Linked DNA regions of Homo sapiens: region 1 is linked to region 2. Evidence: fine-mapped expression QTL. A gene starts in region 2. The other region holds a variant in brackets. All regions are shown on one strand. Distances are between the middles of the regions. Region 1 holds the start of XRCC1 (X-ray repair cross complementing 1). Region 2 holds the start of ZNF576 (zinc finger protein 576).

Region 1 (15,685 bases), 22 kb before region 2:
TGGATTTCTTGAGCCCAGGAGTTCAAGACCAACCTGGGCAACACGGCGAAACCCCGTCTCTACTAAAAACAGAAAAATTAGTTGGGCATGGTGGCATGCGCCTGTAGTCCCAGCTACTCAGGAGACTGAGGCACGAGAATCACTTGAACCTGGGAAGCAGAGGTTGCAGTGAGCCGAGATTGCACCACTGCATTCCAGCCTGGGCAACAGAGCAAGACTCAATCTCAAAAAAAAAAAAAAAAAAAGGTTTATATATACATGGTAACAACCCAATAAATGTCCATCAGTTGATGAATAGATAAACATTGTACAGTATATTTATGGAATATCATCCAGTTATTTAAAAAACTGAAGTTGTGATATATGCTACAACATGGATGAACCTCAGAAACATTATGCAAAGTGTAACAAGGTTAAGTGTAAAAGACCACGTATACATTTATAAGTCCAGAATACGCAAATCCAGAGAAGCAGAAAGTAGATCAGTGGTTGCCAAGGGCAACATTGGGGAGAGAATAAGAAGTGACTGTTTAATGGTTATGTGGTTTCTTTTTGGAGTGATGAAAATATTCTGAATTAGAGAATGGAGATGGTTGAAGAACATTGTCAATATGCTAAAAAAAAAAAAAAAACCCTGAAATGTGCACTTTATTTATTTATTTATTTATGTTTTTTGTTGAGACGGAGTCTCACTCTGTTGCCCAGGCTGGAGTGCAGTGGTGCAATCTCAGCTCACTGCAAACTCTGCCTTCCAGTTCAAGTGATTCTCTTGCCTCAGCCTCCCGAATAGCTGGGACTACAGGCACGCACCACCACCCCCGGCTAATTTTTGTATTTTCAGTAGAGATGGGGTTTCACCATGTTGGCCAGCCTAGTCTCGAATCCCTGACCTCAAGCAATCCACCCGCCTTGGCCTCCCAAAGTGCTGGGATTACAGGTGTGAGCTACCGCATCTGGCTGAAATGTGCACTTTAAATGGTTAAAACAGTAAATTTTATGTGAATTTTTCTCAAAATAAGAGATGAGTGCTCAGTATGTATCAGCTGTGAGGATAAGAGCACAAGATGACTATCACCGATGGCCTGGGTTCGTGTGCATGCAGCTTTCTCAGGGAGACACAGTTCTGATATGAACTGTTCCTGAAACAAACATGGCACAGGAAGGCAAAGTTCCTGAGATATATTGCTAAAAAACTGTTTCACATCCATGAAATGCAATCTTTTCTTTTTTTTTTTTTTTTGAGACAGAGTCTTGCTCTGTCACCCAGGCTAGAGTACAGTGGCACGATCTCGGCTCTCTGCAACCTCCGCCTCCCGGGTTCAAACAATTCTCCTGCCTCAGCCTCCCAGGTAGCTGGGATTACAGGTGCCCACCACTGCACCTGGCTAATTTTTATATTTTTAGTAGAGACAGGGTTCCACCATCTTGGCCAGGCTGGTCTTGAACACCTGACCTCGTGATCCACCTGCCTCAGCCTCCCAAAGTGCTGGGATTACAGGCGTGAGCCACCGCGCCCGGCCATGAAATGCAATTGTATGCATCATTTAAAAGAATAAGGTAGGCTGCGCACGGCGTGGCTGACGCCTGTAATCCCAACACTTTGGGAGGCCAAGGCAGGAGGATCACTTGAGGTCAGGAATTCAAGACCAGCCTGGCTAACATGGGGAAACCCCATCTCTACCAAAAATACAAAAATTAGCCAAGCCTGGTGGCATGTGCCCGTAATCCCAGCTACTAGGGAGATTGAGGCAGGAGAATCACTTGAAGCTGGGAGGGGGAGGTTGCAGTGAGCCACGATCGCACTACTACACTCCAGCCTGAGTGACAGAGCGAGATTCTGTCTCAAAGTAAGTAAGTAAGTAAGTAAGTAAATAAATAAATAAATAAATAAGGTAGAACTTCATGCAGTGTGCATCTCCAAAATACACTGTTACTTGAAAAAAAACACACAAGGGAACAGTGTATATACTATGAATTTTTTAAAAAGGGATGGAGGCGGTAGGTATATATGCTTGTATGTGTACAGAATGACCCAGGAAGACCACCCAAAAAAACTGCTAATGGTGGTTGCATCAGGAGAGAAGAATGAGGGAGCAGGAGTTGGGGAGGGAGCAGGAGTTGGGGAGGGAGCAGGGAGGGATGGAAAGGGTGAGGGGAGATTTTCTTTTTAGTGTATACCCTTTTGCACCTTTTGAATTTTGCACTATATGCATATAATACCCATTCAGAAAGCAAATATAATAAAACCCCAATGGCCAGGTCTTTGTGGCTCTGTCTGTAATCCCTGTAATCCCAGCTACTCAGGAAGCTGCCTCCAAAAAGCTTAAAAAAAAAAAAAAAAATTAGTTGGGTGTGGTGGTGTGCACCTATAGTCCTAGCTACTCAGGAGGCCAAGTTGGGGGATCACCTGAGATCAACAGTTCAAGACCAGCCTTGGCAACATAGTGAGACTCCGTTTAAAAAAGAAAATCAAATATAAATAAATAAAACCATAATAGTTATCTCAATACAACAGAATACTATACAGAAATGACAATAGGCCAGGTGCAGTGGCTCATGTCTGTAATCCCAAGGATTTAAGAAGCTGAGGCAGGAGGAATGCTTGAGTCCAGGAGTTCAAGACCAGCCTAGACAACACAGTGAGACCCCCATCTCTGCAAAAAAAATACAAAAATTAGACTGGTGAACTGGCACATGCCTGTAGTCCCAACTACTGAGGAGGCTGAGGTGGGAGGATCGCTTGAGCCCGGGAGGTCGAGCCTGTAGTGAGCTGAGATGGTGCCACTGCACTCCAGCCTGGGCAACATAGTGAGACCCTGTCTCAAAAAAAAAAAAAAAAGACAATAGGAGTCGAGCACAGTGGCTCATGCCTGTAATCCCAGCACTTTGGGAGGCCAAGGCAGGTGGATCACTAGAGGTCAGGAGTTCGAGACCAGCCTGACCAACATGGTGAAAACCTGTCTCTACTAAATACAAAAAATTAGCCAGGCGTGGTGGTGCATGCCTGTAATCCCAGCTACTTGGGAGGCTGAGGCAAGAGAACCACTTGAACCTGGGAGGCGGAGGTTGCAGTGAGCTGAGATTGTGCCATTGCACTCCAGCCAGAACAACAAGACGAAACTCCGTCTCAGAAAAAAAAAAAATCACAATAAATCATCTACAGCTACACTGAACGACATAGATGAAATGAACAAACATAACAAGGGAAGCCAGATAAGAAAAGTTTATACCACACGATTCCATTTTATATGCAATTCAAAATCAGGCAAAATGAATCTATGCTGTTAACAATCAGGACAGTGGTTACCCTTGCAGGGGTACTGACAGAAAGAACCTGAGGGAACTGCTGGGGGCTAGGCATGTTCTGTGCTGCATCTGGGTGTGGAGTACACAGGGCTGCAGTTTGCAAAGAGTCACTGAGCTGTACTCTTACTTACACCTTCACTTCACTCTATGTATGTTACACATCAAAAAACAGTAAAAACAAATTTAAGACACCACAGTGGCGAACTGAGTGATTAGAAAACCAATAACAATCAAAAATGACCATAGGCCCTATTGCTGATGAACATTTCTTCTAAAAATGACACACCTCCAGTGACACACCAGAGTTATATCTGGGTCTTGTCCAAGCCACCCCTCCAGCCCAGGAGTAGTTAGCAAAGAGGTTGGCATTTCCCTCTGGGAGCAGGTGATGAACAGACAACAGAGCCTGCTGTGGCTACTGCAAACAACCAGGTGTGTGGGGCTGTCATAAGCAGATGGCTAAGCCCCATGTGGTAAGATCGAGATTTTGCATAACAATAATTAGAGGAGAAAATGCAGGGTAGTAGAAGAACCCACAGATGTGGCCAGGTGCAGTGGCTCATGCCTGTAATGCCAGCACTTTGGGAGGCCAAGACAGGAGGACTGCTTGAGCTCAGGAGTCCGAGACCAGGCTGGGCAACATAGTGAGACCCCATCTCTACGAAAAATTTTTAAAATTAGCTGGGCCTGGCGGCACACGCCTGTAGTCCCAGCTATCTGGGAGGCTGAGGTGGGAGGATTGCCTGAGCCCAGGAGGTTGAGGCTACAGTGAGCCATGACTTTGCAACTGCACTCCAACCTGGGCAAGAGAGTGAGACCCTGTCTCAAAACATAACATAACAACCCAGAGATAAGCCTACTGCCTTGGTGGCCAGAAATGTCTGCCTTTATCAGTTACGTCAAAAGAATCAAAATTAGCATTTGATGAATCCAGAGTAACCCCACAAATTAGTCATTGCCAGATGCAATCAGTCATTCCAAAGGGTCTCTGACGTGGAGTAAGTTAACAAAACAACTGCTGCAATGCTGATCTCCCACTCCTGTGTGTGGCCCCTGCAGTTGATTGTCAACATGGAGCCAGCAGGATCCTGTGAAGGCCTAAGGCAGATCCTGTCCCTCCTCTGCTCGGAGCCCTCCGGTGGCTCCTATCTCACACCTGGAGTAAAAGCTCAAGTCCTTTCAATGGCTTTCCAGGCCTTAAGTGGTTTTTTAGGGGTTCCCAGTCCCACCCTGTTACCTCATCTCCTACCTCTCTCCCCCTGGCTGACTCCACCCCAGCCATACTGGCCTCCTTGCTGTCACAAGCCAGCTTCAGAGTCTTTTCCCTAGATACATACATAGCTCATGTTGCTCAAATGTCCCCTTTTCAGGGAGGCCTTCCCGGACCCTACTATTTAAATAAAAATCCTTGCCACTGCTCCAGCTCCAGCTGGGGCACTCTCATTCCCCTTCATTAAGTTCCTCCATAGCACTCATCATCCAACATATGTTTCACTGACTCATTTGTCAGTCTTTCCCTACTAACGTGAAAGCTCCACAAGACTGAATTTCTTTTGTTTTTAAGAGACAGCATCTCATTCTGTTGCCCAGGCTGGAGCGCAATGGTGCGATCATAGCTCACTACAGCCTTGATCTTCCAGGCTCAAGTGATCCTCCCGCCTCAGCCTCTGGAGTAGCTGGGACCACAGGCATAGGCCACCACGCTTGGCAGATTTTTGTATTTTTAGTAGAGATGAAGTTTCCCTGTGTTGCCCAAGCTGGTCTCGAACTGCCAGGCCTTGGCCTCCCAAAGTGCTGGGATTATAGGCGTGAGCTTACTGCACCCCACTGAGAGTGAATATTTTTTGTCTTCTGCTGTGTACTGCTGTATTAAAACAGTGCTTGGCCTACAGAAGGCACTTAATAAATACTTGACTAAATAAATGAGTGAATGAACAAATAAATCCATCATCTACTCCCGAGTCTATAGGTTCTTTCTCTGCACTGACAACTTCCCCACATTCTGTCTTCAGCTCCACATGTGATCCCCAACTGCCTCCTGGATGCCACCCCTAGAATGTCCCAAAGTCACATCAAACCTGGACATCCCAACTGAAACACATCACCTCCCCAAGCTGCTCCCTCTGGGGTTTACCATGTTGGTGACCGCTGCAATACTCCCTCAGTCTCTCCCAGGCCAGAGACAGGTTCTGTCTCTTCTGCCTCCAGTCACTCTGTTTCCACAGCAACTGGGGTAACAGAATGAAATGTGATTTCCCTGGAGTCACTTGATCATAAGAGAGCCCAGTGGAATCATCACCCACTAAGTAATAAAAACACAAATCCCTCCCTCTACACAAACACCTACATGTTGACAGAGCACTTGTGCAGACATTATGTCACCGAATTTTCACAACTCCGGGCTTGGATGTCATTATTCCCAATGGACACATGAGAAAACAGGTTAGAGAAATGAAACAATTTTCTTGAGGTCACCGATTAAGAGGAAGAGCTGGGGGCTTGAATCTAGATCTCAAGACTAAAACTGTCAGCAATCTGTATCTATCACAGTTTAAAAGACTGAGGTCAGGTGCAGTGGCTCATGCCTGTAATCCCAACATTTTGGGAGGCCAAGGTGGGTGGATCACTTAAATTAGCATTTGGTGCTCATTTGCCTTGAACTCCTGAGGTCAGGAGTTCAAGACCAGCCTAGCCAACATGGCAAAACTCGGTCTCTATTATAAATACAAAAATTAGCCAGGCATGTAAATTCCAACTACTCAGAAGGCTGAGGCATGAGAATCATTTGAACCTGGGAAGTGGAGGCCATTAGTTGACAGGCACTAAACACTGACATCAATTGGGGTGGACCAGATGATGTTACAGTAACAAAGGAGTCCCTAATCTCAGTGGTTTAAAACAACCAAGTTGTATTAACTTACACTGTAATAATGCTGTGTAACAAATCATCCTAAAACTGAGATCTTTTCTTTTTTTTTTTTTTTTTTTTTTTGAGATACAGTCTCACTCTGTCTCACAGGCCGGAGTGCAGTGAAACCATCACAGTTCACTGCAGCTTCAACCTTATGGGCTCAATCAATCCTCCCCGCTCAGCCTCCCTGGTAGCTGGGACTACAGGCATACGCCACCAAGCCCAGCTATTTTTTATAATTTTTCGTAGAGATAGGGTTTCCCCATGTTACCCAGGCTGGTCTCAAACTCCTGGGTTCAAGCGATTCACCCACCTCGACCTCCCAACATGAAAACTGAGACTTATACCAACAAGCATTCTTATAAGAATTTGTGGGATGGCTGCTTTGGCTGCAGTTTGGGAGGATTCAGGTCTCTTCCATGAGATTCCACAGTTTTCTGGGATTAGCAGTAACCTGGCAAATGTTCTCATGGCATATTATGGGAGCACAAAAGCCAAGTGCATTTAAGGCCCTTGCTGAAGTTAGATGTGCTGAAATTCCATTAAGTAAATCATATGGTCAAACTCATCAATGGAGCAGGGAAATATACTCCCCCTCCAGTGGGAGGGAGAGGAGTGGATATTTGCTGAATGACTGCCCATTCACAAAAGGTTAATTTTTCCGTCACCCTAGCACTATCCACAGAGTGTTCTGCTCCTTATAGTCATAAAGCAGCCCCCAGGCCAGGAACAATGGTTCATGCCTGTCATCCGAGCACTTTGGGAGGCTGAAGCAGGAGGAACGCTTGAGCCCAGGAGTTTGAGACCAGCCTGGCAACATGGTGGAAACCCCATCTCTAAAAAAATACAAAAAAAACTAGCCAGGCATGGTGGTGCACACCTGCAGTCCCAGCTACTCAGGAGGCTGAGGTGGGAGGATCGCTTGAGCCCAGGAGGTAGAGGCTGCAGTGAGCCAAGCCAAGATCATGCCACTGCACTACAGCCTGGGAACAGAGTGAGACTCTGTCTCAACAGATAAATAAAAGATTGACTGTCAGGCAAATTGTATAACTTCTTTGGGCCTCAGTTTCCTCATCTGTAAAAGTGGGGATAACAGAGCCTGCCTCTTGGGGTTTTTTATGAGGACTCAATGAGCTAATCCATGTGAGTGAGGTGTGTAGAGCAGCGACTGACAGGTAACGTTGAATAATGCCAGCTCTCATTATTATTATTTTATTTTTTATATTTTGGGGGTCTCACTCTGGTGCCCAGGCTGGAGTGCAGTGGCACAATCTCAGCTCACTGCAGCCTCCATCTCCTGGGCTCAAGCAATTCTCTCACCTCAGACTCGCCAGTAGCTGGGATTGCAGGTGCACACCACCATACTCAGCTAATCTATAAAATTTTGGTAGAGATGACATCTTACTGTATTGCCCAGGCTGGTCTCAAACTCCTGGGCTCATGCAATACTCCAGCTTCGGCCTCCCAAAGTGATGGGATTACAGGTGTGAACCACCATACCTGGCTATTATTCTTTAAAAAAAATTATTTATTTTAATAAAAATAGAGACAGGGTCTTGATATGTTGCCCAGGCTGGTCTGGAACTCCTGAGCTCAAGCAATCCTCCCATCTCAGGCTCTGAAAGTGCTGGGTTTACAGGCATGAGCCACGGCATCCGGCCAGTTTCCCCTTCTTTAAAGTGGAGTTGATTGGCTTAGACGACCTTCCTGGACACCTTCCAGCCCTGAGCCCACTGGCTGCAGGAGGCAGAGTACGTGGCAATGATTCATTTTGTTCCAGCTGAGGAAACTGGAACCCAGAAAGTAGATGCCACCTGCCCAGGACCACACACTGATTCCTGTGGTCATCCTGGACTTAATCCTTGGGTCTCCTTTCCTCTCTGCTGAGGGGCACAGGGATTATGCTGCCCATTTTCCGAGTAAGGAAGCTGAGGCCCAGCAAAGAAAGTGACTAAACCCACTGCCAGTTGGCTCAGGAGCAGAATCTGGAACCCCGGACTCCAGACTCCTAGTGAGGAGGAGGTGGGGTGGCAGGATCACCTGTAGGACCACAGAGATGGTCTTCTCGCCTGCCTTGGCTGCCCGCCATTTTCGGTAAGTGTCTGCCTTGAGAAGATTTTCTGCACAGTGAGTCTGGAAACAACAGTGGGAGAGGAGAATTAGGGCACAGAGATGACAGCTAGGCCTCCAGCTCTCAGATGATTCCTTTGAGTCCTCCCAAGGCCTCTACGACCCCCAGATTTAAGCTCTCCCGTTAATCCCCCGACACTCTGCCTGGAGTTTCCCCTACAACACTTTCCCGTGGAAGTTCACCTATGGGCTCTCCAAGAAAGCTTCCCTATTCCTCCTTTTCTCTCCGGAAGTTCCCTAGACGCCGGAACGTCCCTAATTCAACATCTCTCCACAATTCACTTTTAGCCTCCTGGAAATCCCCCCATGACTCTCCTTAGACTTCCAAGAGAACCCCAAAAGCTCTTTTAAGAGCTATCCTCATTAATTCCCTCACGTCTTCCAACCTCCCCCATGCAGGTCCCTCACCGAGTCCTGGCTGCTGCAGGACACGACATGGCGGAGGCGGATCTCCGGCATGTCAACGTCGTGGGCTTCGCCTGGCCAGAAGGATGAGGTAGAGTATGGGGTCCGAGGGGCAGGGAGAGTGGGAGGG[G/A]GCGGGGTGCGCCCTGCGCTGGCTAAAGTGCGCAAGCGCGCGAGGCTCGGGCCTTTCAAACCCCGGCGCGCCGGCGCCGGCGTCGACACTGCGCAAGCCCAGTCGCGCCTCTCCAGAGCGGGAAGAGCGCTGCGTTCCTTAGCAACGAGCGTTTCCTCCAGCCCCGCCTCCCTCCGCCACACACAACCCCGCTCTAGCCTCGCCTCCCAATGACGTCCGAACCCTGCTTTCTGGGAGCCTAGCAACAGAAGCGACCTCCGGGATTGGTGTCTGGAAGAAATTCGCCTTTCTCATTGCACGATGGAGTTACCGCCCACACTGAAGCCGAGAAAGCAAATCTTTTTGCTGTATTATTATTTATTTTATTTTTTAAAAATTTTTTGTTGAGACAGGGTCTTGCTCTCTCACCCAGGATGGAGTGCAGTGGCACGATCTCGGCTTTCTGCAACCCCTGTCTCCTGGGGCCAAGGGATCCTCCCACTTCAGCCTCCTAAGTAGCTGGGATTACACGCACGCGCCACCACATTCGGCTAATTTTTGTATTTTTTGTGGAGACATGGGGTGAGAGGGCGGCGGGTCTTGCCATGTTGCCCAGACTGGTCTCGAACTCCTCAGCTCAAGCGATCCACCTGCCTCGGCCTCTCAAAGTGCTGGAACTACAGGCGTGAGCGACTGCGCTGGGCTAGGACAGCAAATCTGAGTGAATTTTCGTAGTTTCGTAGGGAACCTGGATTCTACGCAACAGGATCTCTTCAAATGGCTCAGGCGGCTGCACTCTTCTCTCTGTCCCCTTGCCACACACACACACACGCACATATACATACATACGCGCGCGCGCACGCGCGAAAAAAATTAGCAGATCTCTTTCAGCCTTATGCCTGAGGCCAAAAGAGAAGGGTTCTGCGTCCTAAATATAACACAAAGCATGTGCCCAACCCCCACCACACACACACACACACACCCCTATCCTGGAGTTCTTCCACAAAAGCCTCAGTTTCCCAATATGTGGACTGTGGGCATCTGTCTTTTACTACGCCCGCCTATGACTGCCGACAGACATCCCTCTGTTCATTCGGTGCCTTGGAGACCCAAGGGTGCAGCCCTGGGTGGGGTCGCAGCTGGAGACAGCCCAAACACACAAGGAGTGTGAGCCGAGCACATGAAGAGAGGGGAAGGGAGACAAGGCACCCCGCACCCGCAGGACCAGCCTGGACATGCTGGGTGCTCCAAGGTGGGGCCCTACCCACACTGGGTGCTTCCTTGGGAGGAGAGGGGAAGAGAGAGAAGGAGAGGGAATCCCAGTTCTTGCAGCCACTGGGAATCAAGAGGCCCAACTCCGTCTTGGTCTTCAAGCAAACAAACAAACAACAATGGGCCGTGGGAAGGTGAGAAAACAGGGTGGTGACTTTCTGGGTTCTAATAGAAGAGGGGGATGGAAGCCCAGACTCCTGGGGTCTCCATGGAGGTGGGGGGCTGGGCACAAGATGCCCAGGTCACTTTTGGATTCTGGTTCTGCCTTCCCAACCCGGAGGCCACAGAGGACTGCCCTGGGTTCTGACCTCAGCTATTTCTCCCCGTAGGGTGAATGTGGGTCCAGACCCACCCCTCCTCAGCTTCCTATAAAAGCTGGGGACCAGGTACTGCTGATACACACACCATGAGGCTCTCCAGGAGACCAGAGACCTTTCTGCTGGCCTTTGTGTTGCTCTGCACCCTCCTGGGTCTTGGTAAGTGACAAGGGACCTGAACTGTCTCTGGGACCTCAGGAAGAGAGAGGTCCCAGATTGAGAGAGAGAGAGATATAGAGAGAGAAAGAGCCTTCAGCAAGTCCTCAAGGTGAACGGGGAGGCATTCTGGAAATTCAGATTCATGGAAGAGGCCAAGGGTAAAGGAAGAGAAAGCCTGGGGGTCCCAGAGAAGAAAAGCTCCTGTGATTGGATCCCTGAGAGAGGGGCTTGGTGGGCTCTGAATCCTCCATCCTCCAGGAAGGATCCCAAACACATCTCAATTCTAGGAAATCAGATGAGAGCATGGCTGGAAAGGGAAATCTTTAAAAATATAATTAAAAAAAAAAAAAGAGGGAGAAGGCCAGGTGCGGTGGCTCATGCCTGTAACCCCAGCACTTTAAGAGGCCGAGGCAGGTGGATCACTTGAGGTCAGGAGTTCAAGACCAGCCTGGCCAACATGGTGAAACCCCGTCTTTACTAAAAATACAAAAAAAGTTAGCTGAGCTTGGTGGTGGGCGCCTGTAATCCTAGCTACTTGGGAGGCTGAGGTGAGAGGATTGCTTGAAACTGGGAGGCAAAGGTTGCAGTGAGCCAAGATCGTGCCACTGCACTCCCCAGCCTGGGTGACAGAGCAAAACTCCATCTCAAAAAAAATACATTAATATCATATGATATATTTTTTTAAAAGAGGTAGAGAGATTTCCTTTCTCCTTAGACTAAGAAGTTCAGGCCCCAGCCCCCTCCTCCCCTGCACACAGGAGTCCAAGTAAGCCTCACTTTCCCCAGGACCCAGGTTTCTGGGCCCCTAGCTGTCCCCTCTCTCAGAACCAAGAAGTTCAAGTCCTCTGCCCTCCTGGTCCTCACTCTCCCTCCTTGACCTGGGATGCAGACCCTAGCCTCAGGGCCCCCTGCCTGAGCTCCTGCTGTCTACAAGACCTACATGGCACCTTCAAGGAGGAGAATCCCACATTCAAGAACCAGCTGGACCTGAAGTTTCACAAAAGTCCATGGAAACCTCCATCACGACCCCTCCCTGCCCCTGAGCTTTCTCAGCGGACCCTGGCATCCAAAATCCCCAGCCATGTAATTAGGCAAACAGGCTTCATGGTGGAGTCGCTTCCCGCCCCTGGAAGCAGCTTTGCTGGCATCACCACTGCTTCTTCGTCCAACTCTGGACAGTTCCTTGGGCAGTGGTCAACATCCCGCCCATGAAAAACCAGGGAGCTGCTGGTCCCTCCTCTCTCAGGACACAAAAGTCCTAAGTCAAAGTCGTGGTCCGAAGACCACACCACCCATGACTACAGCCTCGCCCTCTGTCTACACTGCAGGGTGCCCACTACACTGCGAAATATGTACGGCGGCGGGGAGCAGGTGCCATGGCCAAATGAAGACCTGCAGCAGTGACAAGGACACATGTGTGCTCCTGGTCGGGAAGGCTACTTCAAGTAAGAGGATGTGGCCTGGGACCTGGTGGGGAGGTGGGGTGTACCTTCAGGGTGGAAGAGACTACCATGCTGAGGGGGGATCATCATGGTTCTCAAGACGGGAGCGTGGGAAGAAATCAGTGGAGAGCAGGAAAGAGGGAAAGACCATCATGAGATGGAGGGAACAGAAATAAGTGGTGTGATAGAAATCATTATTGTCACAGAATTCTGAAAATGACACTGTCCTAAAGAGAAGGAAAATGTGGGAGGGGTGAGAGTTAATAGACTTTCTTAGGCAGAAGAGGGGTAAGGAAAGACACTGTGGGGGGCAGAGAAATAGTGAGAGGGGAAGAATCTAACTGGCAGGAGGTGGAAATGGTGGGGAGTGGATAGAGAAGGAAGAGGCTGGGCTGGGGTGGGAAAGTGTAAGTGTAATCAGGGAAGAGGTCATTCCTGACCGAGGGAGGAGAGATGATGGTGGAGTGTTGGAGTGGTGGAAGAGACAGAAAAGGGATCACCCCAAACAGGAGATGGATGATAACCTTGAAGTATGGAGCAAATCATTTTTTTTCTTTTTTGAGACAGAGTCTCGCTCTGTCACCCAGGATGGAGTGCAATGGCGCGATCTCTGCTCACTGCAACCTCCACTTCCCAGGTTCAAGCGATTCTCCTGCCTCAGCCTCCCGAGTAGCTGGAATTACAGGTGCGTGCCACCACACCTGGCTAATTTTTGTATTTTTTAGTAGAGACGGGGTTTCGCCATGTTGGCCAGGCTGGTCTCTAACTCCTGACCTCAAGTGATTCTCCCGCCTCGACCTCCCAAAGTGCTGGGATTACAGGCATGAGCTACCGTGCCTGGCTGAGCAAATCATCGTAAAGAGGAGAAGCAGAGACAGGGAGGGGGAGATGTGGATGAGTAAAATGAAAGGGAGGCCGGGCACGGTGGTTCACGCCTGTAATCCCAGCACTTTGGGAGGTTGAGGTGGGAGGATCGTTTGAGCCCAGGAGTTTGAGACCAGCCTGGACAACAAAAAGAGATCCATCTCTACAGAAAAAAAAAAAAAAAAATAGTTGCGCATGGTGGCACATGCCTGTAGTCCCAGCCACTTGGGAGGCTGAGGCAGGAGGATCACTTGAGCTTAGGAGATCGAGGCTGCAGCGAGCTAAGTGCACACCGCTGCACTCCAGCCTGGGCAACAGAGGGAAACCTGTCTCAGAAAATAAAATGGAAGAGAGAAGATGGGCATGAGTTAAATGAAAGAGACCACCCCAGACCTGAAAAATGATGGAGGAGAAAGGGAGCAATGGAAGAGACCAGTGGGGGACAGAGATGTTTATACAAAGCTGAAAGAGACTTTCAATCACAGGAGGAGAGATGATGAGGCCTGGTGAGGGAATAAAGGCGACTTTGGGTGCAGGGAGAAAACACTGGTCGGGAGAGGCTGTGAAAGGAAAGTGAGATCGAAAATCACCCAGCCAGCGTTGGTGGGTTAAGGAAGGACCTGAAAGGCTTGAAGAGAACCCCCATCCCGGCATAGAAGAGGAAACGCACCCTCGGGAAGGGAGGAGAGAGAGCTGGGGGACCCCTCGATGGAGTGAAGGGGGAACCTGTGAATTGGGTAGGAAGAGACCACCACATGGTGGGGAGGGGGAAGGCCGGGGAGACTGGAAGAACCCACCTTAAACAAGACCTGAAAATAGCCAAGAGGGGCAGCAAGAGACCCTCGTTGGGAGGTCTGAGGAGTGACCATGGCAGGATCTGAGAGAGGAGGATGCCTGTTGCTGGGACCGGGGTTCATTGGAAGAGACTACGGGGTGGGCGGGGGTTGGCGGGGAGTTGAGGAGGCTGGAAGAGACCATTTCACGAAGGCATGGGGGTGGCCATAGGCGGCCTGAAATAGAGTAATCCCGGAAGGACAGGGAGAGAGGGGTGGCCGTGGGTGGGGTGGGGTGGGGTGGAAGGGACCACATCCAGCAGGCTGAGGTTGGCAATGGGGAGCTGGAAGAGACCACCAAAGGCCGACTAGGGGCTATGGCAGCGGGAGGGAGGGCTACCTAAGAAAGCACTCCAGGCCATGCACCAGACAGATTTGGCCGCATGGCTCTAGGGGGCTTGAAAGAGACCGCCCCGGCCGGGCTGGCGCAGTGGCTCCCGCCTGTAATCCCAGCACTTTGGGAGGCCGAGGCGGGCGGATCACCTGAGGTCAGGAGTTGGAGACCAGCCTGGCCAACATGGTGAAACCCCGTCTCTATTAAAAATACAAAAAAATAGCCGGGCATGGTGGCGGTCGCCTGTGATCGCAGCTACTCGGGAGGTGGAGGTTGCAGTGAGCCAAGATCGCGCCATTGCACTCCAGCCTGGGCAACTCCGTCTAAAAAAAATAAGAAAAGAAAGAAAAAAAAGAAAGAGACCATCCCAGGAAGTTGTGGGGTTGGGGAGGCCTAGGGTTAGGCAAGACCTTGAGGCAGGGGTTGAAGCCAGGGAGTGGTCAGCCAGCACTGTCCCTGCCTGTCCCCATCCCACAGAGGGCAAGGAGTTGGTGCACACCTACAAGGGCTGCATCAGGTCCCAGGACTGCTACTCCGGCGTTATATCCACCACCATGGGCCCCAAGGACCACATGGTAACCAGCTCCTTCTGCTGCCAGAGCGACGGCTGCAACAGTGCCTTTTTGTCTGGTAAGAAGCCCGTGGTGTGTGGTGTGTGCTCTGGCTCTCCACTGACCCTTGCTGTAGCCACTTGCTGGCTCTGAGCCTGTTTCCTTACCTGTAAAATGCAGTGTCTATTAGCAACCCTGGTGTTTCCCGGGGTTGTTGGGAGGTTGGGGGAACGGCTTAAACATCCCTATTCACCTTACACTTCATCCTCATCCTCAGTTCCCTTGACCAATCTTACTGAGAATGGCCTGATGTGCCCCGCCTGCACTGCGAGCTTCAGGGACAAATGCATGGGGCCCATGACCCACTGTACTGGAAAGGAAAACCACTGCGTCTCCTTATCTGGACACGTGCAGGCTGGTGAGTGGTGCCTGAATCTCTGGAAAAGGAAACAGAACTAGAGGTCCAAACTTCTAGGTTCGATGGGAGGAGAGGGTTCCAGAGAAGTGGGTGAGGATGTGTTCTGGGATTATGAGGAAGAAGGGGCTGAGGTCCCTGATTCCAGTCTGAAATCTCCCTTTCAGGTATTTTCAAACCCAGATTTGCTATGCGGGGCTGTGCTACAGAGAGTATGTGCTTTACCAAGCCTGGTGCTGAAGTACCCACAGGCACCAATGTCCTCTTCCTCCATCATATAGAGTGCACTCACTCCCCCTGAAAAGCTATCTGAACAGAGGAAGATAATGTAGTGTGAAGTCCCCATTTGTCCTCAGCCTGTAACTCCCCGTGTGCCTATAAAGAAGTTAATAGAGCAAGCCTGAGTCCTTGTGGTGTGATGTATCTTGATGAGATAGAATGCAGGAAATAGGGGGTCTCAATCCTCATTTCAAATCCCCTCCTTTTGAGGAAGAGAGGGAAGGCCCTGCCTTCTTTCTTTCTTTCTTTTTCAGACAGGGTCTCACTCTGCCACCCAGGCTGAAGTGCAGTGGTGCATTCAAGGCTCACTGCAGCCTCGACCTCCCGGGCTCAGGTGATTCTCTCACGTCAGCCTCCC
Region 2 (15,685 bases):
ACTAAAAATACAAAAATTAGCCAGGCATGGTGGCATATGCCTGTAATCCCAGCTACTCAGGAGGCTGAGGCAGGAGAATCACATGAACCTGGGAGGCGGAGGTTGCAGTGAGGCGAGATCGTGCCACTGCACTCCAGCCTGGGTGATGGAGTGAAACTCCATCTCAAAAAAAGAAAACTTAAAATGACATATGTGGCTTGCATTTCGTTTCTACTGGACAGTGCTGCCCTGCAGCCCTCCCATTCCATCACGTGGCTGACATGCCTGATTGCAGGGCTTAGACACTAATATGATGGGGTAAAGATATGGATGAATATTCTTCCCCAAAGCTGAAAGAGCTTTCATGAAAATGCCTGGAGCCATTCAGTATAGAACTAAGTGCTCTTCCCCATGGTAGCTATCTCAACTTTGAAGGGACAAATTTTGTCAGCAGTGGGAGTCCAAGCTGGAGATGATGGTACCATCCCTTGTCTGCCCTTGGATCAGTTACCTTTGTCTTCAGCTTTTAAGGGAGACAGGATCTCAAAACTAAGGTTCTTATCCAGCTCTTTTATTTCACAGATGGGAAAATAAGGCACTGTCCAAGTAACACACAGTGACAGTGGCAAAGTCGTGCTTGCTTCCCAGGTCCCTGACCTCAGACAAGGGTGTTCTCTCCCATTAAATGCTTTTTTCTCCTCATCTTGCTCCATTTTCCTATCTTGTGGCAAGAGATTAACAATCTAAATTCCAATCCTAGTTCTGACACTGACCAATGAAATAAACATTTAGGCTGGGTGTGGTGGCTCACACCTGTAATCCCATCAAGGCAGGAGGATCACTTGAGGCCAGGAGTTCAACACTAGTGTGGGCTACAAAGCAAGACCCCCGTCTCTACAGAAAATTTGGTGCTGTGTACCTATAGTCCCAGCTACTCTGTAGGCGGAGGTGGGAGGATCGTTTGAGCCCAGGAGTTGGAGATGGCAGTGAGCCATGATCATCCCACTGTATTCCAGCCGGGGCAACAGAGCAAGACCCTGTCTCTAAAATAATAATAATAATAATAAATATTTACGAAGCACCTATTGTGTCAGGCACCTATTGTTCTAGATGCTGGGGAAACAACAGAGAACAGGACAGGCAACGGGTCAAAAGCCAATAAACAGGTAAATAAATAAGATCATTTTTGACAGTAATAATTGCTACAAGGAAACTCAACTGGCCGAAATGAATAGTGGGGGAATGTGAGCTACTTCAGATAGGGTGGTCAGGGAGGGGAAGTCCTCTCTGAGGGGATACGTGAGCTGAGATCTGACTGAGCCCGTCACAGGAAGGTTTGAGAGTAGAACAGGAAGTTGTGAGTAGAGCCTTGAAGGAAAGAGAACAGCAGGTGCATGGGTCCCCAGGCAGGACTCAAGGTAGCCACTCAGGCATCAGAAAGAGTCAGGCGGCCATGATGGCTCACACCTGTAATCCCAGCACTTTGGGAGTCTGAGTCGGGTGGATCACCTGAGGTCAGGAGTTCGAGACCAGCCTGACCAACAGGGTGAAATCCCTTCTCTACTAAACTACAAAAATTAGCCAGGTGTGGTGGCACATGCCTGTCATCTCAGCTACAGTCATCACATCCCTGTACTCCAGACTGGGTGACAAGGTGAGACTCCATTTCAAAAAAAAAAAGAAGGAAAGTCTATCAGGCTGGACAGGAGTGGGAAGGGGCAGTGAATGAGAATAGGCAAGGGCCAGACCCACAGGGCCTTACTGTGTGCTGTTGGGCCTCAAGCCTGCCCTCTCTGGACTTTGCTCTTTCTGTCTACGACAAAAGGGATTCTATCGCTTGGATTCTCAGATCCTCCTTTTCTGTTTTTGACACTGAAGAATTCTGTAACCTGCAACTTTTCCCCCACATGTGGCTAGCAGCCTAGAACATTCCAGGCACTGTGGTTTCTGCCTTTGCTTCATTCACTCCTGGCATATTCCCATGGTCTCAAGTGCCTGACCACCCATTTGGTGGGCCCCTGGCTCAATGCAGCACCCTCTATGTACATCAGAAAGCAGAGCCTCTTGGGGATACCCGAGGTGTCCATACAGAAGTGTTTGGACCAGTGCAGCAGTACAGCTGCTCTTCTGAAAAGGAAGGTGCACAAAACACCAAGGCCATAAAGGGTTATGGTTAAATACCAGGAGAAAAAGGCCAAAAAAAGATAGAAACTCCTAAAGAAAAGAGACAGAGAAACAGACTCCCCAGAGATCACCTGAATTGCTCAGCACCTAGAAGATGAAGGCAGTCATATCCCTTCCCAGTCACACTCACAGAGGCAGTTGCCGGGATCCCAATACAAGGTTTGGAGGAGCTGTCTCTGAGGTATGCTTTACTGCCCTTCCACACCCAAAAGACCTCATTCCTGGTCCCTGGCTACTCCCAGAGCCCACCATGCCCAGACCTCTTACCCACCTCACCTCATTTTTGTGGGACCACCCTCCCTACATGCTTTTGGAGGGCAATTATAGAAACCCATCCACTCCCCAGGAGAGATCAAGAAGTCTCCAGCTTTCTCGCACAAGCCCCCGATCCCTCCTCCAGATGCAGACCTCCCCTTACCCAATATTTAGGAACCAAGGTCCACAGCCATCTTAGAACCCCGGAAGTCTCAGACCCCAGGGGCCTCCGCCACCCCATCAAGATTCAAAGCCCACTGCTCCTTGGGGACCTGTGTGCAGGCTTTTTCTCCCAGAGAAATGTAGACCCTGTTTCCCTCTGAGGCTCTGAAGCCCAAGAGTTCCAGCTCCCTGGGGCGCTCAGGTCTCCCTCCCCTATACTGGAGTTCAGGTCCCAGTCATGGACACCTCCCCACCAATTAGGAAACAGGACTTCTACCAGCCTCCCTGGAGGACTAAACATCCAGTAACTCCAGTTTCTACTCCCTAGGAGACAAAGACATAGTCCCTGCTAGAGTCTGGGCCACCAACTCCCTTCAGGACAGAAGGGTCTAGATGTCATTCACCATGGTTCCCAAAGGTATCAGGATTCCTGGCCAGGGGCGGTGGCTCACGCCTGTAATCCTAGCACTTTGGGAGGCCGGAGCGGGTCGATCGCCTGAGGTCAGGAGTTCGAGGCCAGCCTGGCCAACATGGTGAAACCCCGTCTCTACTAAAAATACAAAAATTAGCCAGGTGTGGTGGCAGGCACCTGTAATCCCAGCTACTCCGGACGCTGAGGCAGGAGAATCGCTTGAACCCGGGAGGCGGAGGTTGCAGTGAGCCGAGGTCGCGCCATTGCACTCCAGCCTGGGCAACAAGAGACTTCGTCTCACAAAAAAAAGAAAAAAAAAAAAAAAAATCAGGATTCCTGTCCCCCAGACTCTCTGAATCCAGGTGATAAGAAGTCACACATCCCAGCTGGAAGTCAAGAGTCCACATCCCCTTCAAGCACCCAGGATTAAGCCCAGGCATCCCCTGTCAGAGTCTGGACTCCCAAGCCCCCTCCCACTCCTCACTGGGCAGGCTCAGGGGGTGCCAGCACAGCCTCAGCATCAGCCCGCATCTCATCGAGAGCCTGCAGCAGGACGCCGTGAGCCGCTCGGTAGCCCAGGCCACCTGTCGCCGCTGCACCACCCGCAGGCCACAGGAAGGAGAGAGCCCCCAGTGCTGCGCCCCCAGCAGTGCCCTCGCCCGCCCAGGCGCCCAGTCTTGCTTCCACCTCGGCGCGCGTCACCGGGCCTGGGAAATGAGCGCGCGCTGCCAGCTCTCCAGAAGCCAGGCCCAGGGCACGCTCACGTCGAGCCAGTGCCGTGGGTTCCAGCCCCAGGCCCCGTCGCCACTCCGCCAGCTGACCCCGCAGAAGTGCCACGTCGCATGCCCAGCCCAGCCCTGGGAGTGGTGCCGCCGCCGCCGCCAGACTAGCCAGCAGAGCTGGCCTCCACGCCCCGGCTCGCAACGCCGCAGCCTTGGTTCGGGCAGCGCTGGGAGATGCTGGTGGCAACGCCAGCAGCAGTGCCCCTGCCTGGGCTGGGGGGAGCGCTCGCCGCAGCCATTCGCATAGCCCTGGGAGTCCGCCAGGCCGTAGGGGGAACACTGGCGGCGGCGCCTCCTCCAGCACCTCCCACGTCTCGTCCTCCGGGCTTAACGCAGCGGCCCGCTCTGAGTCGCCACCACCTGATTTCTTCATGCCGACAACCTGCTGCAAACCCTCGCTGCCAGCTTTCCCAGGACCTTCCCCGCTGCCTGCTTTCTGCGATCCAGCGCTACATTTCTCCCTTCCCTTACTGAGTGCATTCTCCAATCCCCCTCCACCTGCGTTCTTTAAGCTCTCGCCCTTGGGATTCTCCATCTTGCCTTCTCCCAGACACTCCGGATCCTCGCCCTCGCCGTCTGTGCGCACGCAGACAAGAGGCGCATCTGGTAGCAGCAAGGCCTGGACCTGGGCCCAGTCCTTCTCAGTGGGGGCCCCAGGGGTGACGAGGATGAGGGCGTCGTAGTGCGTTGGGTGAGAGGCGGCGGCCGCGGTGGTGGCAGTGCCCGTGTGGCCCAGAGGCACGGTCCAGAGCACCACATTCGGGCGCTCTGGGGCTGGGAAGGGAGTGGGTGCTGTGGGGACCGAAGCAGGCGCAGCGCCTGGGTCGCCAGGATCCAATCCAAGCAGCATGTCCACCACAAGGCCCACGTCAGCCTTGCCAGCCACGGCCAGGTCTAGCCGTGCGCTGCCCAGGCGCTCCAGGCCTGAGCGCACCCACGACAGCGCAGCCTCAAGGCCGCCGGTCTCAAAGGCCTCACGCACAGCCTCTAGCTCTGCTGCACCCAACACCTCGAAGCCATCCTGCGCCGGTGGCAGGAGCCTGTGGGGACAAGAAGGGACAGGGTCAAAGGTAGAAGAGGGGCTGGGTGACATGGACTGGGCTATGATGACAAGGGCAGAGCTTTCCTAATGATCCCAGAATGGGGCAGGGGTAGGAAAGGGAAGGGCCAGACTGATGGCACAGCAAATAGAAACCAGATAGGGAGAGGCAGTGATGATATGGGTGGGGCTTCAAGCAATAATGGAGTCTTGATTATTGGACGGGTGGACATAAGGTCAGGTTTCCCACCCCAGCCTAAAATGGGGATTGGGCTAAAACTTCCATGGAATACAGTATTTGGGGGCGGGGTTTTTCCAAGGGTCGGCTGTGCTGGGTGGGACAAAGCTCACAGAGGGTGGGGCCTAGAACAAAGAATCGCAACTGTATTGTGGCCTAAACACAAGTCCAGCACTATTTGAGACAAGGTCCCCAAGGGCACTCTTTTCAGGGGCTGGGCCTAAGGAGGGTCAGTGAGGGGAGAAATCTCATCTACCAGTTCTTACCAAGGGGGAGTGGCTAAGGTGACTCCCGGGCAGGTGAGGCTAAGGAAAAAAGATGACAGTGTACTGGGACAAGGGACTGTCCCTCTCTGAGCCTCGTTTTAAAGTCTTTAAAATGAGGAGGCTGGCAGGTGGTAGAGCAAATCCAGGAGGTAGCCAGCAAGTGGGCACAGAAACAAGAGGGAGCTGGAGAAAGGAGGTAGATGAGGATGCCCCAAAATAATAAAGCTCATTGCGGGTGTGGCTTTAGGTGCTTGAAAACAAAACTGATGGTGGGGAGGGCTCAAAGATTAGAGTTTTCAGGTAAAATCTTCCAGGGGGCTGGGCAGAGAGTCTCACGACTGTAATCCCAGCACTTTGGGAGGCCAAGGAGGGTGGATCACCTTGGTGGGGGCAGGGCCTGGAAAAAGGAGCCTCAGGGCCCCAGCAGATAAAGTGTTAAGCCTTTCCCTTTTAATTCTAGGGCTTTGGGAAGCCTGGGTGGGGGCATGGCTTGAGGCCAAGAGTTCAAGACCAGCCTGGGGAAACAGTGAGATGCTGTTTTGCAGCCTGTAGTATTAGCTACTCTGGAGGCTGAGGCAGGAGGATCATTTGAGCCCAGGAGGTGGAGGCCGTCAGTGAGCTAGGATCGCGGCACTGCACTCCAGCCTGGGCGACAGAGTGAGAACCTGTCTCAAAAAAAAAGGCCGGGTGTGGTGGTTCACGCCTGTAATCCTAGCACTTTGGGAGGCTGAGGCGGGAGTATTGCTTAAGGCCAGGAGTTCAAATTCAACCTAGCCAACATAGCGAGACCCTGTCTCTCAGGAAAAAAAAAAAAATAATAATAATAGAGCTAAGCCTTGCCCCAAACTCACTGGGGGAGGGATCTCATGGACCTCCATGGTCGCACCTAGGTGCCTAGGGTCTCGACTAACGGACCCAGCCAGAAAGCCGGCACTCACCTCCGCAGCGCTTCTGCCTGGCTCTGCAGCGCCGCCCGGAGGCGCTCTAGCTCCTCGCAGCCGTCGCTGCTGCCGCAGTTCGCCGGTAGCACAAACAGATCCGCAGCTCCTAACCCCGCGCTGTTCAGCAGAGCTGCTGTCTGATCACGGGCCTGGGCGGCAGTCTGTGAATCCCCAGGACGGAGGTTCCGCACAGCCAGTAGCGGGGTCCCTCGGGCCAGGGCGGCCAGCGCTGCCTCTCCCAGGGCTGGAGCCAACGGTTCCCCGTTCCCCTCGGGTCCGGGCAGCACCAGTACCAGCACGTTGGCTTCCGCCGCCCAGGGCCCCGGCGCTGCGGGTGGGCAGCTCAGCTCGCCCAGAAAAAGGCCTGGGCCCGCAGCTCTTAGGCTGGGAACCCCGGAGTCCGGCCGTCCCTCGGGGGCCTCGAGCGTCTCCACATCCTTGTCGCACAGCGCTGCGATCAGCGCGGACTTCCCCAAGCCCGGAGGCCCCAGGAACAAGGCGGTCACGTCACCCTGCGGCGGAGGCATGGCTGGAAAGCAACGGGTAGAGAAGACCTGGGTCAGGGAGCACCTAGCCTTTTCCTTTCCTAGCCGCCCCACTCGGAACCCAGGCCTCAGTCCTTCACCCTGTCCCCTTCGGTTCTTGAGTGTCACTCTCCAGGACCTAAAAAATCCAGAGCCCAGACCCTATTCCCCCAGAATCCCAGGCGTCCTGTCTGTCCGCCCTCCCTCTAGATGGAAACGTTTCCCTTTCTGCTTCAAAAACTCTGAAATCAGGCGCGGTGGCTCATGCCTGTAATCCCAGTGCTTTGGGAGGCCGAGGCCGGAGGATCGCTTGAGGCCAGGAATTCGAGACCAGCCTGGCCAACATGTGGGGGGACTCTCTGGTAGAGTCTCCGTCTCGATAAAAAATAAAATTTAGCCGGGCATGGTGGTGTGCGCCTGTAGCCCCAGCTACTCGGAAGGCTGCGGCGGGAGGATCGCTTGAGCCCAGGACTTGGAGGCTGCAGTGGGCCGTGATCACACCACCGCACTCCAGCCCAGGCGACAGAGCAAGACCCTCTCTGAAAAATAAATAAAAATAAAACCTCAGAAATCTGGCTTCCAGTCCCTCCTCCCTCGGACACATTGTTATTTTCATCTTTCCCCTTCCCCCTTCCAAATCACCAACCGAGCAAAAAGCCGACCCACGGGAGAGAGCGCAGTCGGTGGCAGTAGGTCAGCAGCTGAGAAGCCCGGCCCCTGGGCCGCGGCGGACGGAGGCCGAAGAGGCCAGGGAGCGGTGATTTAGAGATGCCGGGACCCGTCCCGGTAGCTTTAACCTGACGTCACTCCCTCTCCCAAGGGGGTGTGTCTTGGAAGGCCGACAGCAGAGACCCAGCCCTTCGCCGCGCCTGCGCAGAACGGCCGAAGTGTGCACGCCCCTCTTTGGCGGCCTCAGGGCCTAGAACAATGAATGAGTCAACGCGCCTGCGCGCCACGAGAGCCTACCCACGCATGCGCAAAAGGCTTAGCTAGCTAAGCCGCGGGAGGCTGAACGTCATCAAACGCGCCATAGGGCAGAGAAGGACCCCTCCCGTTATTTTGAGGACCGGGCTGGTGCGACTATACTACTGCCGGATGGCAAATCCGGGATCTCGGCTCCGAGAGGCTCATCTGGCAAAAGGGCGCGGAAACCACGGGGGCCCTGAGACTGAGTGGTCCCTATCCCACTTCTCTCTGGGGCGGCGCTGTAGCCAGCGGCTGACAGGCGCAGCGAAAGGCAGCCCTCTGCTGTAAGGAGGAAAACTGAGGCCTGGGAGCAGGAACCTGTAGGCAGCGCTTGAGGGTAGCGGGATAGCAGCTGCAAGCGCGCGTGGGAGGCGGGGGCTCTGGGCGGAACAAAAATCACAGGATGTCAGAGGATGTTTCCCGGGAAGAACTGGGATAAAGGGTGGGTATCACTACCTGCCCCAAGACACTTGAGATTGGGATGACGCTGGTGTCAAAGATCAAGGCTTCCACGCTGAGTTCAGGGAGTTAGTTTGATGCAGCAGGTCATAGGTCACACCAGTGAGAAGACTCTAGGGGAGTCCCAAACCCAGGAAATCCAGTCCTTTGGGAGGTTTGAAGCTTCTTTTAGCAAGAACTCCATCAATTAGAGTTCAAGGAGATAGTATGTCGTAGGGGTCAAAGGCAGGCAAGGAGAGCCTCTGGCGATGTCAAAGGTCATAGACTTAGGGTGCCCTCTAAGACTGGTAACAGATGAACAGCTTCACTTATGCACGCTCCTCTCCTGACTAGAAGGGTCCCAGCACCATGGAGGACCCGAACCCTGAAGAGAACATGAAGCAGCAGGATTCACCCAAGGAGAGAAGTCCCCAGAGCCCAGGAGGCAACATCTGTGAGTACACATGGCTGGCGGGCTAGAGGAGGGTGGGGTGCAGGAGCTGATGCTAAGATCTCTGTGGCACTTCGGTGTCCAAGGCGCCACAGAGTTTTGCCTGTTGAGAAGGGGCTGTAATGGTCCCTGAGCTGCTCTAGCAGGAAGTGCATCTCCTCACACCAGCTTATGTGGCCAGAGTACTCACCCTCCTCTGGCCACATAAGCAGGATTGCAATGCTTATGCATTCAGAGGGATAGGGTGGCTTCCAGGAGAGGCTTGGGTTGGAGATGTGGCTGGGAATGGTTCTATTGGGAGAGAAACCCCAAGATTCTGGTCCCAACTCTGCCCTAGACTTTCAGTGTAACTTGGGCCTTGGTTTCCTTGACTGTCAAAAGAGGGTGGTACTTCCCACCTCACAGGGTGGGTATGGGATTAACTGCAGCAAAGGGGAAAGCTAGGGGTTAATGATGGTAGCCAGTTTGACATGTAATAGCAACACCTCCTGCTCAGTGTTTTATTATGAGCTAGGTGTATTTATTCTCATATTATGAACCATTTTAACATTCATTATCTCATTGAGTCCTTCTAATAATAGGCCCTTTAAACTGGGAACTGAGGCAGAGAGAGGTATTTGTAACAAGAGCTGTAGTCTCAATGCCCTTGAGCCAGAGACTACCAGGAACACACCTGCAGTTGAACACGTTGGGTTTCTCACTGCAATGAACACAGACCATGGGGGGACTGTGGGGTGTCTCACTAAGAATGGTAAAAACGACACAGGATTTGGGCTTGTGGGTGGTGATTTTGGGGAAGGTTCAAGCAAAATTGTTTTGCTCTGGATTGGATGCTACCAGGAAGCAGGGGCAATTCTATGATTGGCTATCGTAATAAATCTTACCCAGAAGGAGGAAGGAAGGAGGCGAGGCTCAAGCTCTGACTGATAAAGCAGCAGCAGACATTCACATTAGCCAGGATAGGAGGATGTTTGGTCATTTTTCTGCTTGGACAGTATTCATATTTTGTCTGTGCTCAGACATTATGATGATGTAGTCTTGTCTTGATTCATTTTAGTCACAGCGTGGCCTTGTCTGTCCTTGATATTCTGTGAAAATTTATGTTCAACAGAACACCAAGGTCTAGCTGTGAGTACCAGGCCAGATCCTGGATGTCGGGCTGGATTTCTCTGTATCATTAGTCATAATTGCAAATGACTGTACAGCAATTCATTTATTCCTTCCAACGGTCCTATGGAGTAGATACTGTTATTAGCCCATTTTCCAGATAAGGAAACTGGTGTAATTGCCTAGGAAGTGGTGGAGGTGAGATTCAATCCCAAGCAGTCTGGCTCCAAAGGCTGTGCTGTAATCACCATACCCCTCTGTTGGGCAGGCTGACTCTCTGGGTTCCAACCCTGGCTCCACCATTTCCTTTCCTAGCCTCATGACTATGGGCAACTTGCCTAACCTCTTTGAATCTCAGTTTGCTCATCCATAAAATAGGTGCAAGAACAGTTCTCCTGTTTGGTTGTCCAGCATTAGCATAGAACCTAGCACATAACACATTCAATGTTAATTGTTGGTGTGATTCTGGGGTTCAGGAAGAGGTCTTGGAGACTCCTGCTGGCCTCCCCTGACCTCTCCCCCACATTCCTCAGGCCACCTGGGGGCCCCGAAGTGCACCCGCTGCCTCATCACCTTCGCAGATTCCAAGTTCCAGGAGCGTCACATGAAGCGGGAGCACCCAGCGGACTTCGTGGCCCAGAAGCTGCAGGGGGTCCTCTTCATCTGCTTCACCTGCGCCCGCTCCTTCCCCTCCTCCAAAGCCCTAATCACCCACCAGCGCAGCCACGGTCCAGCCGCCAAGCCCACCCTGCCGGTTGCAACCACTACTGCCCAGCCCACCTTCCCTTGTCCTGACTGTGGCAAGACCTTTGGGCAGGCTGTTTCTCTGAGGCGGCACCGCCAGATGCATGAGGTCCGTGCCCCTCCTGGCACCTTCGCCTGCACAGAGTGCGGTCAGGACTTTGCTCAGGAAGCAGGGCTGCATCAACACTACATTCGGCATGCCCGGGGGGAGCTCTGAGTGCAGCTTAAGCCTCTCCACGGTGACGGGTGGCTCTGTGGCTGGTAGGACTCACCCATGATATGGGGTGCAGGAACTCTGGGGGCCCTGAAGGATTTGCTTCCCTCCCCTGGGAAGGCAGAGGGCTCTTAATAAAGAGGACCCAGAAGATTCTTATTTAGAGCTTCAGTCTTTGGAGCACACAGGGCCTTCGTGAGACAGTGAAATCAGATAATAATGAGATCTTTTGTTAAAAAAAAAAAATGGGAAGGGAGTGCGGGAGAGAAATGGTTTGTGTCTCCCTTATTCCCAGTTAAATACCTAGCTGCAGATTGTGCCATCACCCTTCATTCTTCCCAGATGGATGCCATGGGCTATGGGAGCAAATTGCCCTGGACCTTTGCCTGAATGGGGGCAGGAAAGGTGAGGTGTTGCTGGCCTGTAATGCCACCAGGTGAGTTCCAGATGTGGAGCAACTTGGGCTTTTGGGGATGGGGCAGCAAAGTTGGGAGCTGGACCCCAATTGAGTGGGGGTAGCAATTGGAGTCCTTGTGTCTCTTTTCCACCCCCTGCCATCCTCACTTAGAGGGGCCATGGCACTAGATGGCACTAGTCCCCCGATAATTTATGTCTCGTTGAAATAATTTTGTATATCATTCTAGTCCTGAAATATTTTTTTCATATGTGTAGGTGAAATGGTATGAATAAGCTAACAGGAATAGTATCTAAAAACAGAAAACATCCATATTAAAATGTCTAAACAGGGAGCTCTGGCTTTTGAGTGGGAATTTCCAGAGAACATAAGGGTGTGGGCAGGTGGGGGAACTCAGGCCAGAGTTGGCCTCGCTTTGTGGGGAAACTGGTTTGGAATCAAACAGAGATACCTTCTGTTTCGGGTTTTATTTGGCCAACACTGGGAGATTTCCCATTAAGATCCTATTTTCAGCTCTCTTGAAAGGCCCAACCTAGGCTGACATTGTCAGCAGGGGCAGGACAGAAGTTACAACAGGCTGGAGGGAGCAGTGGGTGTCACCCTCAACTGGAGATGAGTCCCACCAGGCCAGTTTTACCCCCTTAGTTACCTGCCCTGCACCTGCAGACAATGGTCGATGCCTTGCATATAATACTTATAGACTCTGTTTATGTTGAGGGATGTTTTTAAAGCCCACAGGTGAGGTGGATGTGGTAGACTGATCACTGTCTCTGTTTTTAGCTAGGCACACAGTAGCTGAAAAGACTGCATTTCCCAGATTCCTTTGCAGCTAGATGTGGCCTTGTGACTGATTTCTGGCTAAATTCCTGGGTAGAACAGTCAAGCTTAAGAAAGGGACGGCTGGGCACAGTGGCTCACGCCTGTAATCCCAGCACTTTGTGAGGCTGAGGCCGGTGGATCACCTGAGGTCAGGAGTTTGAGACCAGCCTGGCCAACATGGTGAAACCCTGTCTCTACCAAAAATACAAAAATTAGCCGGGTGTGGTGGCATATGCCTGTAATCCCAGCTACTTGGGAGGCTGAGGCAGGAGAATTGCTTGAACCTGGGAGACAGGTTGCAGTGAGCCAAGATCGTGCCATTGCACTTCAGCCTGGGTGACAGAGTGAGACTGTTTAAAAAAAAAGAAAAGAAAGGGACATACCTTTTTTCCACCTTCCTAACTGTAATACGGAAATGGTATCCAGCCATCTCAGACCATAAGGATAAGAGCAACACGTGGGAAGACAGAGCAACAAGATAGGAGCCTGGGTCTCTCGTCAATTTCAAGGAGCACAGCCACCATACCAGCCCACTTCCATATTGCTATCTAAGAAAGAAACTTCTATCTTATTTAAGCCACCATTATTTTGGGTCTCTGTCACATGCAACAGAATTTACAGCCTAAGACAGGGGTCTGCAAACTATGGCCAACTCTAGCCTGCTGCCTGGTTTTGCAAATAAAATTTTATTTGAACAGTTTTATACTCATTCACTTATGTATCGTTGATGGCTGCTTTTGCCTAGAACAGCAGATCTGCATAGTTGCAACAGAGATTTTAAGGCCTACAGAACTTAAAATAGTTACCATCTAGCCCTTTACAGGAGAAGTTTGCCAACCCCTGGTCTAATAAGACATTCAACCTACTCTGAGTCTGGAAGCAGAAATTTCCATCCTGGGAACCACCATCTTTACCAGGTAGGTAGGTAGGTAGGGTATGTGTGTGTGTGTGTGTTTTGGGGCAGGGCTACCCTGGATCTCTTTGCTGGGGTGACTTATGGGGAGACTGGTTGGAGTTAGTAGACCATCAGTTTTTTTCAAGATACCAACTTCATGAAGAGCCAGATATTTCCTCTGGCTCCTGGTGAATGCTCCGAAGTTTCCAACCCAGATATTGTCACACTACCCCCACAGTGGCTCCCCTAAACCAAACCTAAGTATCTAATCCCACATGCTCTCCCAAGATAGCAGCCTGCCCAAGTACACCCTGGGCTTCCTGTTCTCTCCAGACATCACAGATTCTCTAAATAGCATCACTGATGACATCCACATCTTTATCTGCAGCCCAAACCCCAGACATAAGATATAACCACTTGAATAAACAAATGGAGATCTCAAACTTAAAATGGGTCAACAGGACTCCTGCGGCCCAACCTGCACCACCATTGCCATCATGTTAGTAAACTGTGCACTCTTAAATTCTTTTTTCTTTTTTGAGTCTCACTTTGTCTCCCAGGCTGGAGTGCAGTGGTGTGATCTCAGCTCACTGAAGCCTCCGCCTCCTGGATTCAGGCAATTTTCCAGCCCCAGCCTCCCGAGTAGCTGGGATTACAGGTGTGCACCACTATAACTGGCTAATTTTTTGTATTTTTAGTAGAGACGGGGTTTCATTATGTTGCTCAGGCTGATCTCAAAACTCCTGGCCTTCAGTGATCTGCCCGCCTGGGCCTCCCAAAGTGCTGGGATTATAGGTGTGAGCCACTGCACCTGGCCTTCATTTTTTTTTTTTTTTTTTTTTTCCCCTTCAGACAGGGTCTCGCTGTGTAGCCCAGGATAGAGTGCAGTGGTAAGATCTTGGCTCACTGCAGCCTTGATCTCCTCAGGCTCAGATGATCCTCCCACCTCCACCTCCCTCCCTGTAGCTGGGACTACAGGTGTGCACTACTATGAACAGCTAATTTTTTGTAGAGATGGAGTTTCACCATGTTGTTCAGGCTGGTCTTGAACTCCTCGGCTCAAACAATCCGCCCACCTCGATCTCCCAAAGTGCTAGGATTACAGGCGTGAGCCACCGTGCCTGGCTGACTTTCAGCCTTCTAACACCTGTGTAACTATTCCCTGTATTAAATCCTCTTTGGGGAATGCCTGGCCTGACTCCATATCCTGAATGGGTGCTGGCTGAATGACCCAACTCCTGATTGATAGTGCCTCTTGTGATCCTTAGGAATATTTGCCAATGGATGGAAATTCTCTATATTTGTCCTTAGAAGTCCTGTCTTATGGCAGAAGACAGGATGGGGTGCTGCTCCAGGAAACAAAACCTATGATCACACTTATCCATGTGCTATAGTTGAATGTATGTGTCCCCCTAATATTCATATGTTGGGAACCTAAGACCCCATGTGATAGTATTCAGACATGGGGCCTTTAGGAGATGGTTAAGTCACAGGGGCTCTGCCCTCATGAACAAGATAAGTGCCCTTAGAAAAGGACCCAAGGGAAGTAGCTAGGCCTTCTCCCCTTCCATCTCTCCTACCATCTGAGGACACAGCATTCATCCCTTTCTGCCACCTTCCACTGTGTAAGGATGCAGCAAGAAGGCACCAACTTGGAAGCAGAGAGCAACCCTTAATTAGACACCAAATCTGCTGGTTCCCTGACCTGGGACTTAACCACTCTCCAGAACTATGAGGAATTAACCTTTGCTCTTTATGAATTACCCAGTCTCAGGTATTTTGTTACAGCCGCACAAACGGACTAAGACTCTGTTGTTTTAATGAGCCTGGAATTTCTGCTGATGATTCTGAGGTTCCATGATGCTAAGCTATAGTGGCTAGGAAAGTCTCAGTTCAGAGTGTATCAATGTCAGGTTTGGAGATTCTGGGATGAGAAACGTGGGTTTTGAAAAATGCTTTGGTCTGAAATCCTGTAATAGGTGTCAAAAATGTAAATGCTGGCCAGGCACGGTGGCTCACGCCTGTAATCCCAGCACTCTGGGAGGCCAAGGCGGGCGGATCATTTGAGGTCAGGAGTTCGAGACCAGCCTGGCCAACATGGTGAAACTGCATCTCTACTAAAAATACAAAAATTAGCCGGGGGTGGTAGTACCGCGCCTGTGGTCCCAGCTACTCAGAAGGCTGAGGCATGAGAATCGCTTGAACCCAGAATGCAGAGGCTGCAGTGAGCTGAGATCATGTCCACTACACTCCAGCCTGGGCGACAGAGCGAGACTCCGTCTCAAAAAAAAAAAAAAAAAAAAAAAAAGCAGATGCTCTTCAGGGCCAAGCAGGCAGGGTAGGGGTGTCCAGATGTGAGGCATTGGTGACTGGGCACATAAGAGTGAATGCCTCCCCTACAGAAAGTGACTCCTTCTCAGCACCAACAAACCACTATCCCCATGGGAACTGGGGGTTCAGCAATATAGATCTCACAATTTTCGAGACAGTCCAGAAACTTCAATTTTTTTAAATGTGAAATTACCCATTTTTCAACATTGGTAACCAACGTAACTTAAAAAAATTCAATAGCTCTGTGGAGACCAGATACACTCCTCTAAGTCAGATGGTGGCTGTGGGCACTAGACTGCCATTTCTGGTGTGTGGCTTAGTGGTTAAGAGTGGATGCACCTGCATCCAGTTGTCTGGGTACAAACCAGGGCTCTGCTGCTTACTGGCTTTGTGACCTCTGGCAGGTAACTCAACCTCCCTGTGCCTCTGTTGTAGCAGATTTTTTTTTTTTTTTGGAGACGGAGTCTTGCTCTATTGCCCAGGCTGGAGTGCAGTGGTGCAATCTGGGCTCACTGCAACCTCC

The links.
Region 1: its variant is fine-mapped to the expression of ZNF576 in whole blood (TOPMed, PIP 0.93).

What each region holds. Positions count from the first base shown.
Region 1 is chr19:43,566,653-43,582,337 of GRCh38, forward strand. It overlaps XRCC1 (X-ray repair cross complementing 1), which reads right to left and starts at 8,875. Exons shown (of 17, transcript NM_006297.3): 1 at 8,756-8,875; 2 at 8,258-8,350. The coding sequence starts at 8,806. PINLYP (phospholipase A2 inhibitor and LY6/PLAUR domain containing) reads left to right here and starts at 9,149. Exons shown (of 6, transcript NM_001193621.3): 1 at 9,149-10,267; 2 at 10,463-10,609; 3 at 11,938-12,054; 4 at 14,560-14,712; 5 at 14,911-15,051; 6 at 15,216-15,446. The coding sequence starts at 10,540. The coding sequence ends at 15,349. RefSeq lists a silencer at 8,829-8,988 and enhancers at 9,089-9,248, 9,249-9,775, 9,776-10,301, 13,563-13,622. The variant G/A (reference allele first, on the strand shown) is at 8,883.
Region 2 is chr19:43,588,554-43,604,238 of GRCh38, forward strand. ZNF576 (zinc finger protein 576) reads left to right here and starts at 8,042. Exons shown (of 3, transcript NM_001145347.2): 1 at 8,042-8,190; 2 at 8,541-8,640; 3 at 10,278-12,604. The coding sequence starts at 8,556. The coding sequence ends at 10,705. IRGQ (immunity related GTPase Q) reads right to left here and starts at 7,581. Exons shown (of 3, transcript NM_001007561.3): 1 at 7,429-7,581; 2 at 6,256-6,787; 3 at 1-4,814. The coding sequence starts at 6,785. The coding sequence ends at 3,473. RefSeq lists enhancers at 1,181-1,270, 6,205-7,001, 7,187-7,256, 7,657-8,076.